Linked DNA regions of Homo sapiens: region 2 is linked to region 1. Evidence: fine-mapped expression QTL. A gene starts in region 1. The other region holds a variant in brackets. All regions are shown on one strand. Distances are from middle to middle. Region 1 holds the start of IL1RAP (interleukin 1 receptor accessory protein). Region 2 overlaps IL1RAP (interleukin 1 receptor accessory protein).

Region 1 (4,531 bases):
ATTTTGTAAGCCTTTTTCTTTGTAGACATATTTCCATAATATGATAGTTATGATGCAAATATTTTATTCTGTGCGTAGACAGCGTTGGTTAACTAATCATTTTCATTTCCAACCATTTATATTGTGTTCAAACTACAATATACTATGAATATTTGTCTATATGATTATTCATCTTAATGTTATCTTCCTTAAGCTATGAGTAGCCCTTCAATGTCCGGGAATATACATCTGGTTCAATTCTGAATTACTAGCATCTGTTTGGCTTCTAGGTAGTACATGAGACTGAGTAGCGGCTGAGAGCATGAACGTCGAGTGTCTCTAGTCTCATTTTGTATTCTCCACTTGTAGGCCTGTAGCCTTGGTCAAGTTATTTAAATTCCCTTTATCTCCTTTATGAACTGGAGATAATAATAGCACCCTCCAGGTTGTATTGAGGGTTACCTGAATTAATATACACAAAGTCCTTATGATTGCACCTTTTTATTTTGTAAGCACTGTGTAAATGCTTCAGTGTACTATATATATATAAAAGTCTGTGCCCAGAATATATTTAAGGAATGAATAATAAATCAGAAAATGTTTTATTGTTGCTTCATACAGGTAACATTTTAAATTCTTTTGGATTATTTTCTCTTTGGTTCAGTGACAATGTTGTGAGCAGGTGCTGGGTCCCAGGTATCCTGAGATAAATAAAAATTTTGAGCAATTAATTTTCATAAGTGATGTCAAGAAGTAAAGTATCATGAACATTTCTATGGCTCCAATTACACTGATATTTCACCTTAGGAACTGAAGCTCCGCCAGGGCAGGGGCAGCCTCTGAGTTTCGTACTGCTGTGCACCTTTAGCAGCACGGGCACCTGCTGGTTTCATTTCCTTCCCACTCACCTGGGCCCTTTTCTTATTTCACATCTTTTTTCTCCTTTTCCTTAAATGCTTTCTCTGAATCTTGATTCTTGAAAATAAATTAGTAGGATTCAGTTAGGTAGGAGGAGGAGAAAAGAAGATGTGATGAGCAAGAAGATGTGCGAAGACTCGTCAGTCTGGTAGGTGGCTTTGGTTAGGGGGTTTCAGAAATGGGGACAGGTCATGAAGGGCCTTGCCAGTCAGGAAAAATCATGAGGCACTAGCAGTAGGAACACAGCAGAAGGTGCCTGAACAAGAGAGATGACTTAATGAAAGCCTTTATAACGCTTCCCGGGATATATTACAGACTACCATCTACAGTGGCAGAGGGCAGCTGAAGGAAGGCTCTTGCAAAAACTTGGGGAAATGGAAATGAATGAAGGCAAATATTTGTTTTGAGATTATTTCCTTCTATGTAACCTATTAGTTCTTTTATTCGTTCCCCATACATGTATTGAGTGCCTACTTTGTGCCAGGCACTGTGCTAGGCAATGGGTATATTACCAGTGGACAATACAGATTTAGTCTTGCTGTCATGTCCTGTTGCTTGCTCATATGAATGTCAGTTCAAGACAGCAAGAGCTCAGGACTGCGGAGATCGCATCTACATCCTGCCGCGCTCTGTGCCGGCACAGGGTGGTTGCGAAAATCGTGCAGTCTGAATTGATTCAAGGCCTTGCAGCATGATTGCTAAATACGTCGAGACAGGAAGAAAGGGCAGGGTGGCACCGATCTCAACTGCGAGAGCACGATCTTGCAATGAGCGCATGTGTGCGCCTCGGTGTGTAGTGAGGGGCGTAGCTTCCCACAGCGCCTGGCAGCGTGCCGAGCTGCGCTGCAGGACTAACCCTCTCCTTTCCCCGCGCGCTCAAGCCCGCACAGGCGGTGGCAGGGAGCCGAAGGGGCCGAGCGCAGCCTTGCATCCGTCCGCAGGCGGGCCCGGCGCCGCGCCTCCTGGCGGCGGGCGGGACCGTCCAGGACGCCGCCCCGCGGCCGCAGCTCCTGGAAGCCCAGAGCGCCGGTGGATCGCGAGCCAAGGCGGCGGGTGGAGCCTGAGCCGTGAGGCCGTGGCCAATCGCGCCGCTCCGGGGGAGGAGCCCCAAAGGGGGAAAAGAAAGTGCGGCGGAAAGTAAGAGGCTCACTGGGGAAGACTGCCGGGATCCAGGTCTCCGGGGTCCGCTTTGGCCAGAGGCGCGGAAGGAAGCAGTGCCCGGCGACACTGCACCCATCCCGGCTGCTTTTGCTGCGCCCTCTCAGCTTCCCAAGAAAGGTGAGTCTCGCGCCGCCGTGAGGGCTCAGAAGTCACCAAGCCGCAGAATCTCAGGGTAGACGGATTCTTAGAGATCCTATCGTTAAACCCTCCTACTTTACAGAAGAGGAAACTGAGGCACAGAACGAGGCAGCGGCTGGGATAGGTCATACTGCTAGTTAGGACTGGAGCCCGGATTCGAACCCAAACGTTCAGAGACCCATCTTTGCTTTGCAGGGATTTAAGTAACGCGGTTGTGGGACGTCTGCTCGTTGCCGCCCCCATCCTCAGCCCTTTGAGGGGTCTACCCTTGTTTTCCTCCTCACCGCCCCCTCCCCGCTACCACCCCCCGCCCCCATCTCCTCCTTGGTTTCTCCAGACCGCTGCTGGAAGCGCCGAGGACAGAAGGAAGCGGTGTGTCCCAGCACGCCCACTCGGTATCACGTCGCTCTCAGCGCAGAGCTGTGACAGCCTGGGAAAATGCTGCTTGCAGCCTCACTCCCTCTTCCCCTGACCTGCTTTCTCAGAAAGATGCCCCTTCAGAGGGTGTCGGACCAGCTTCTGGAGGAGCGCGGGGAGAGAGGAGCGAGGCCCGGGCGCCAGTGACCTCCTATGGTACTGTTTCTTCCCAGCCCCGGAGGAAGCGGAGCTAGTGGCCCTGTGGGGCACAGGGTGCCCCTCACTTGGGAAGAGCTGACTTCATGGAACCATAGAGCCCCTTCCCTCTTCTAAATACTGAGAGGGAGCAAGGAAGCTGAGTTAAAGAGAAAATCACAAACATAAAAGCAAACTTCGGCTGTTTCCTTTAAGAGCTAGCCCACAGCCTGTCTTCCCTCCACCTTCTGGTTGTGAAATTGTGAACCAGGGCGCCACGCGAAGCATTCTGCTGCTCTGCTGTACAGATCCCTGGTTTAGCTACTGGATGAGAAAGAGGACTTGAGTTTTGACTCCAGCTCTTCCATGTATTAGCAGTGTGAACTTGGGCAAGTTATCTCACCTTTCCGATACTGGGTTTTTCTTTTCTTTCTTTCTTCCTTTTTTTTTTTTCCAGCCAAAAAATGGAGATTTATAATGGTCACAATGAGCCCTTTGGGTAGTTGGAAGGATGAAATGGGATCATTCAAGTAGCATGTTTAGCACAGTGCCTGGCCTGGCATCTGGTTGGTTCAAAACCAATGGCAACTATTGTAAATATTGTTACATAGTAACCTTGCAGACAGTGGGTTTTCAGAAAGGTGATTTCATACCATCTTACAGAGGCATTTTAAAAAAATCTGTAAATGTGGTGTCTTTCTTCTTTTGAATTTGAGCAACTCTTTTATAATAAGAATTTTCTGAATGTTGTCCATATGTGATGTGGATCATGGATGCTTAGCTCGAAATGTAAAATTGATGTTTCTCGGTGATATGAATTTCCTACTAGTTTTTAGGTCAAACCTCAGGCCTGTGAACTGCCCTGATCTGAGACATCCTTTATTGACAAAGAGGGTCTTGAAATGGGTGAGAGGCAGAAAGACAAGAAGACAAAGTTGGAAGTTGCAGCTGTGTTACAGATTATTCTAAGCCTTCTATCCTTGCTCTCTTAGGTCAGTCGAGCAACCTTACATTTTTCATCTAGTATCAGAAAACAAACAAAATTCTCATATATTTCTTTTGGATTGTACAGAGATGCTGCTAAATGCAAACCTTTCTGGACACAAACTTGCCTTATTTAAACACGAACACACAGACATTCACATGCCCACACTAGTCTTCCTGTATTATTGGTATTTTAAAGTTAAATGGATTCCCTCCCACACCCTTAACCCTTCTCATGACAATTGATTTTATTCTGATGAACTTCATGCAATAATTTACTACTATCTACTGGCTTTGCCATGCGTCCTTAAATTGAGTGTCCAGCATTTGTAGTTGGCTGCCTCCTTCACAGGCCATAGCATTTGTATGCAGTATTGGTAAGTGCTTGAGAACAGAGTGTGATACATCTTGATGGAAGATAAGAGCCCAGTGGTGCCCACTTAAGTACCTCCCGCACCAAGCATTAGTAAAGGATGGGATCACCTGCTTCTATCAGCTTGTTCCATGTACATGCATTGTGGTGAGCTGGCTGGGATATGACTGAATGTGTGCCTGAGAGACAGGGGCCTTGTGGGGGAAAAGGAAAATGTTCAAAATAAGGTCAGATCATGAGGATGGAAGGGAGATTAAAAGCTAATTCCTTTGGTTCTGATTCTTCAAAGAAAGGTTGGTCAATTATACCCATATCTTCATACAGATTATTACTTGTTACCAAAACCATATATATGTATAGAACTTTAAAATTTCCAAAGTGCATTCTGTATATATGATACTCCTTGTTACTCACAATAGCCCTGGG
Region 2 (4,000 bases), 110 kb after region 1:
ATACCCGAAGGTATGAACTTGAGTTTCCTCATTGCCTTAATTTCAAATAATGGAAATTACACATGTGTTGTTACATATCCAGAAAATGGACGTACGTTTCATCTCACCAGGACTCTGACTGTAAAGGTAGTAGGTAAGCATGATTAGTGTCCAGTACACACAACAAGCATGTGATCATCTTGTTATGGTTTTTAATAGTTTATTACACACTAGTATGTAAATTGTATAAGAAAAGTGATTCATGTTTTTTGTTTACAGTACTGTCTCTAGAGCCTTCAACAATTCCATGCACATCGTAAGCATTCAGTAACTGTTGGTCAACTGAATGAATATGTGAATAAATGAATGAAGTAAAGGTAGTTTGGGGAGGGAAAGGAGCACCAGACAGATCTGTGTTCAAATTCTGTCACTGCCACTTATTAGAAACATGACGTTGAACAAGGTCCCTGTCTTTATCTGTACTCTGGAACTGCAATTGATTGAGAATATTTAAAAAAATATTCATATTGTATTAATGCAGTTTCAGGCAAGCAATAGAGACTCAGTGCAACACTTTTGTCAAAAGAATGTTTTACTTGGATTAAGTAAACTCTATTTTTCTACATACTGAAACTGCTGTACCTATTGCTGAAGGTATTTGCTGGCAATAATGTTCAACCATTATTTTGCACTAAGAGAATAGGGGGTGAGAAACTAGGAAAGTGGGAAAGGCAATTCTTAGACAGAGTTGACAAACTCCTAGCAAACCCAGAAATAGAGAAGTAGTGTCAGGATATATGGCTTTTGGGGATTACCCCTAAATACCACTGTGTCCAGTGTATTAAAAAAGATAGCATCTCTGGGTATTGTTTTGTCATACCCCATCTTTTAATAGATGGAAACATTAGGCTCACTGACAAGAAGTAACCTGTTTAGAGACACTCAGTGAGTTACTTGAAGAAGTAATTCTAGATCCCAGGTCTCTGCTCAGGGCTTTTTCTACTGGTCTGACATGATTTAGTATAAGTTAGCTACAAACAGCCTTTCATATAGTGCAAATAGTATTCAAACAATGTCGTAATCACTTCTGTTCTTTTTCTGCTTACTTTCTAAATAATGCTGAGTTGGGGATTAATTCATAAGAAAAAAACAGACTAAATTTTAAAAGTCAAATGAATAATGTAACCTTATATTCATCTTAGCAGTTGTTTCTAATATATGTGCTTAAAAGTATGCATTTTGGGGAAGTTGGGAATAAGCATACTTTGTCACTCTGATTAACAGATTTAAAAATTCACAGACAGATCTGGGCACTGGGGGCTTCTTTCTCAAATTTCAAGCAACACAAGTTTGTTGTTTTAAAGCTGCAAAGTGTTGAGTATTTATTATATGCCAGTAGCATATCCTTAATATATATTCCTTAGTTTATTTCTCATAGTGAAACTGCGATATGAGTTTTAATTATCCTCATTTTAGAGTTATGAAAAATTAGCTTTTCAAAAATTAGGAAAAACCAAGTAACTTTGCTTTTGCATTTTTATATGGTTAATATATGGCCAAATCAGGATTAGAACTTGGTTATTAAATCTTTGGAGCTCATACTTTTGAAGACAATACTAAAAACTCTACTCAATGTATTATTTTTAAAAAATTAGGAGTACTGAATATTATAAAGAGCAGCAATCTCATAAACAAACATTCAACTGGTAACTAGTCATCAAGTAGACTAATGTGCCGGCCTTAACATCATGATTGTGAATTTTCCATTGATTTACTCATTAATGTAATACTTATTTAACCAGCTTCCATACTAGACACTTTCGGTAATGTTGTGAAGAAATACAGAGAGAAGAAACAACTGACTAAGGCATGAAAGCAATTAGGTATTATGCAACATAAGACATCTATCTCATGTAAGCTTTGGAAAGCTTTGCTAAGCAATCCGACCTTAAGCATGGAGGGTATTTAGTATGTTTTATTTTTTTCTTTGTAAAGCAAAAACTATTTTTTTCTATGCTCAAAACACTTTTGTCACTAAATGTGTGGCTCTTCTATACAAAGTAATTCTCACCTTTTCTGAGGACATTAACTGCATGTCCTA[A/C]AGTTTAATTCAATTTGACACCAGTTATCCAGAGTTAGCACTGACCCCACAGGTGAAGGACTCCTTCCTAAAAGACTGCCCCACCCCCTACTTTAGATTCCAGTCACAAGCAATAGGTTCCCGCGTTACCCACAACTCTGCCTGAGTTGGCTACAAACTTAAGATTCCTACTACTTCTTCCTCAGGTTCTGTGATTTGGTATAACTGCTCACAAAACTCAGGAAAACCTTTTACTTACCCTTACTTTGTTATTATAGAAAATATTATAAAGGATTCAAATGAACATCCAGCTGAAGAGATACATAGGGGGAGTTCTGGAAGGGTCCTGAGTTCAGAGCTCCACCCTCTCAGCTTGTGGATGTCCTTACCAACCTAGAAGCTCTCCGAACCTCATTGTTTAGGGTTTTTATGGAGGTTCCGTCACACAGGCATTATTGAGTAAAAGGACTGGAAATTTCAGCCACACTCCCAAACTTCCAGGGATGGGTGAGAGGCTGGAGATTGTGTTAATCATCTATGGTCTTTCTGGCTACTAGCGCTCATCCAGAAGCTATATAGGAACCCTAGCCACCAATCATTTCATTAGCATATAAAATCCACTCGTTACTCCAGAGATTCCAAAGGTCTTAGAAGCTGTTGTGTTAGGAATTTGGGACTAGAACAATATTAAAACAATAGATGCTCCTATTACCCCTGTCACACAGGAAATCACAGGGGATTTAGGAGCCCATGTCAGGAACTGGGAGCAGTCATCAAACCTGTATTTCCTTTATTTTATGCTTTGCTTGTTTTAAATGACTGAAGTGCAGTAATTGAGTATATCTTGGACTATAGGCCTTCTCTAAAACAACTGACAAACTATGCCAGGAAGTTAGGCAAGATTCAGAGAAGAGCAGAATTTTTAATAAGGCTGCCTGATTTAACATCATCTCCCTTTTTTATTTCCTCTAACACAGGCTCTCCAAAAAATGCAGTGCCCCCTGTGATCCATTCACCTAATGATCATGTGGTCTATGAGAAAGAACCAGGTAATTACAGCTATGTCTCTGAATTTCACTTAGATTCTCTTAATTACAAGGAATAAAATGTCATTTAAGTTAATGCAAGAAAATAGACGACTGTTGTAGAGAAACACATGAATTGAAACTGAAATGTCAGAAACCAAAGCAGCTGTGGAGATCAGTTACTTCCCTGATCCCATGGGCAACTCTAGAATTTTTTGCTTCACTCTCGGTATCTGCTCCCTTCTCCCTCTGCTAGCCGTCTTCCTCTGCTGATGAGTGATTTCTGTTTGATGCAAACTTTAGCTTGCACAGGGCTTTGGTTTGCCAAGGCTGCAACATGGGCACAAGATTTAGACATCCTTCAAGCTCCTGCTCCATTATGAAAGGTCAGTGGTGGATCTTGAAGGCAAGACTGTGAATATAATAGCTAACAACTGATAAAACTAGTAGACATTGACGCAGAACACTATTGAATGCTTACTGTGGCTCTTCGGTTCTTCTTTTAGTTTCCATAATTTTTCATTATAGCCAAAAATCATTGATAACTGACCAAATACGGGATAACATGTTACTCTTTTGACTCAAAGCCTCCCACAGTTAAGTGAACAGGAAACTATAGAAAATTTTAACATTTTCTATGTTGTATCACTTACAATACATCCAGTCCAAACCCAGTGAGAGGTGTTAACCTAAATAACAACAAAGACAATAGCTCTCCAAAAAGAAAAGGATTTATTCAGGAATGAATTGCAGATAGCAATCCAGGAATATGAGTGCTATGGCATCCCATGCGGGAACCATAGCCATACCCAGAAAGCATAGGAACATAACAGTTTTGAAAGGCAAAGTGAGGAAGATTACATAAAGTTGTTCTGAAATAATTATCCTTGGTTATAAGAACCAATAACAGGGTAAC

Evidence for each region. PIP is the estimated chance that this variant, and not a neighbour inherited with it, causes the effect. A credible set is the group of variants that fine-mapping cannot tell apart.
Region 2: its variant is the best candidate, but not a certain one, in a credible set for the expression of IL1RAP in whole blood (TOPMed, PIP 0.59).

What each region holds. Positions count from the first base shown.
Region 1 is chr3:190,512,045-190,516,575 of GRCh38, forward strand. IL1RAP (interleukin 1 receptor accessory protein) reads left to right here and starts at 2,041. Exons shown (of 12, transcript NM_002182.4): 1 at 2,041-2,175. RefSeq lists enhancers at 1,388-1,477, 2,230-2,731, 2,732-3,231 and a silencer at 1,628-1,977.
Region 2 is chr3:190,620,308-190,624,307 of GRCh38, forward strand. It overlaps IL1RAP (interleukin 1 receptor accessory protein), which reads left to right. Exons shown (of 12, transcript NM_002182.4): 6 at 1-133; 7 at 3,037-3,108. Among named protein-coding and RNA genes, the nearest start is that of LINC02013, 77 kb to the right of the region's middle. The variant A/C (reference allele first, on the strand shown) is at 2,081.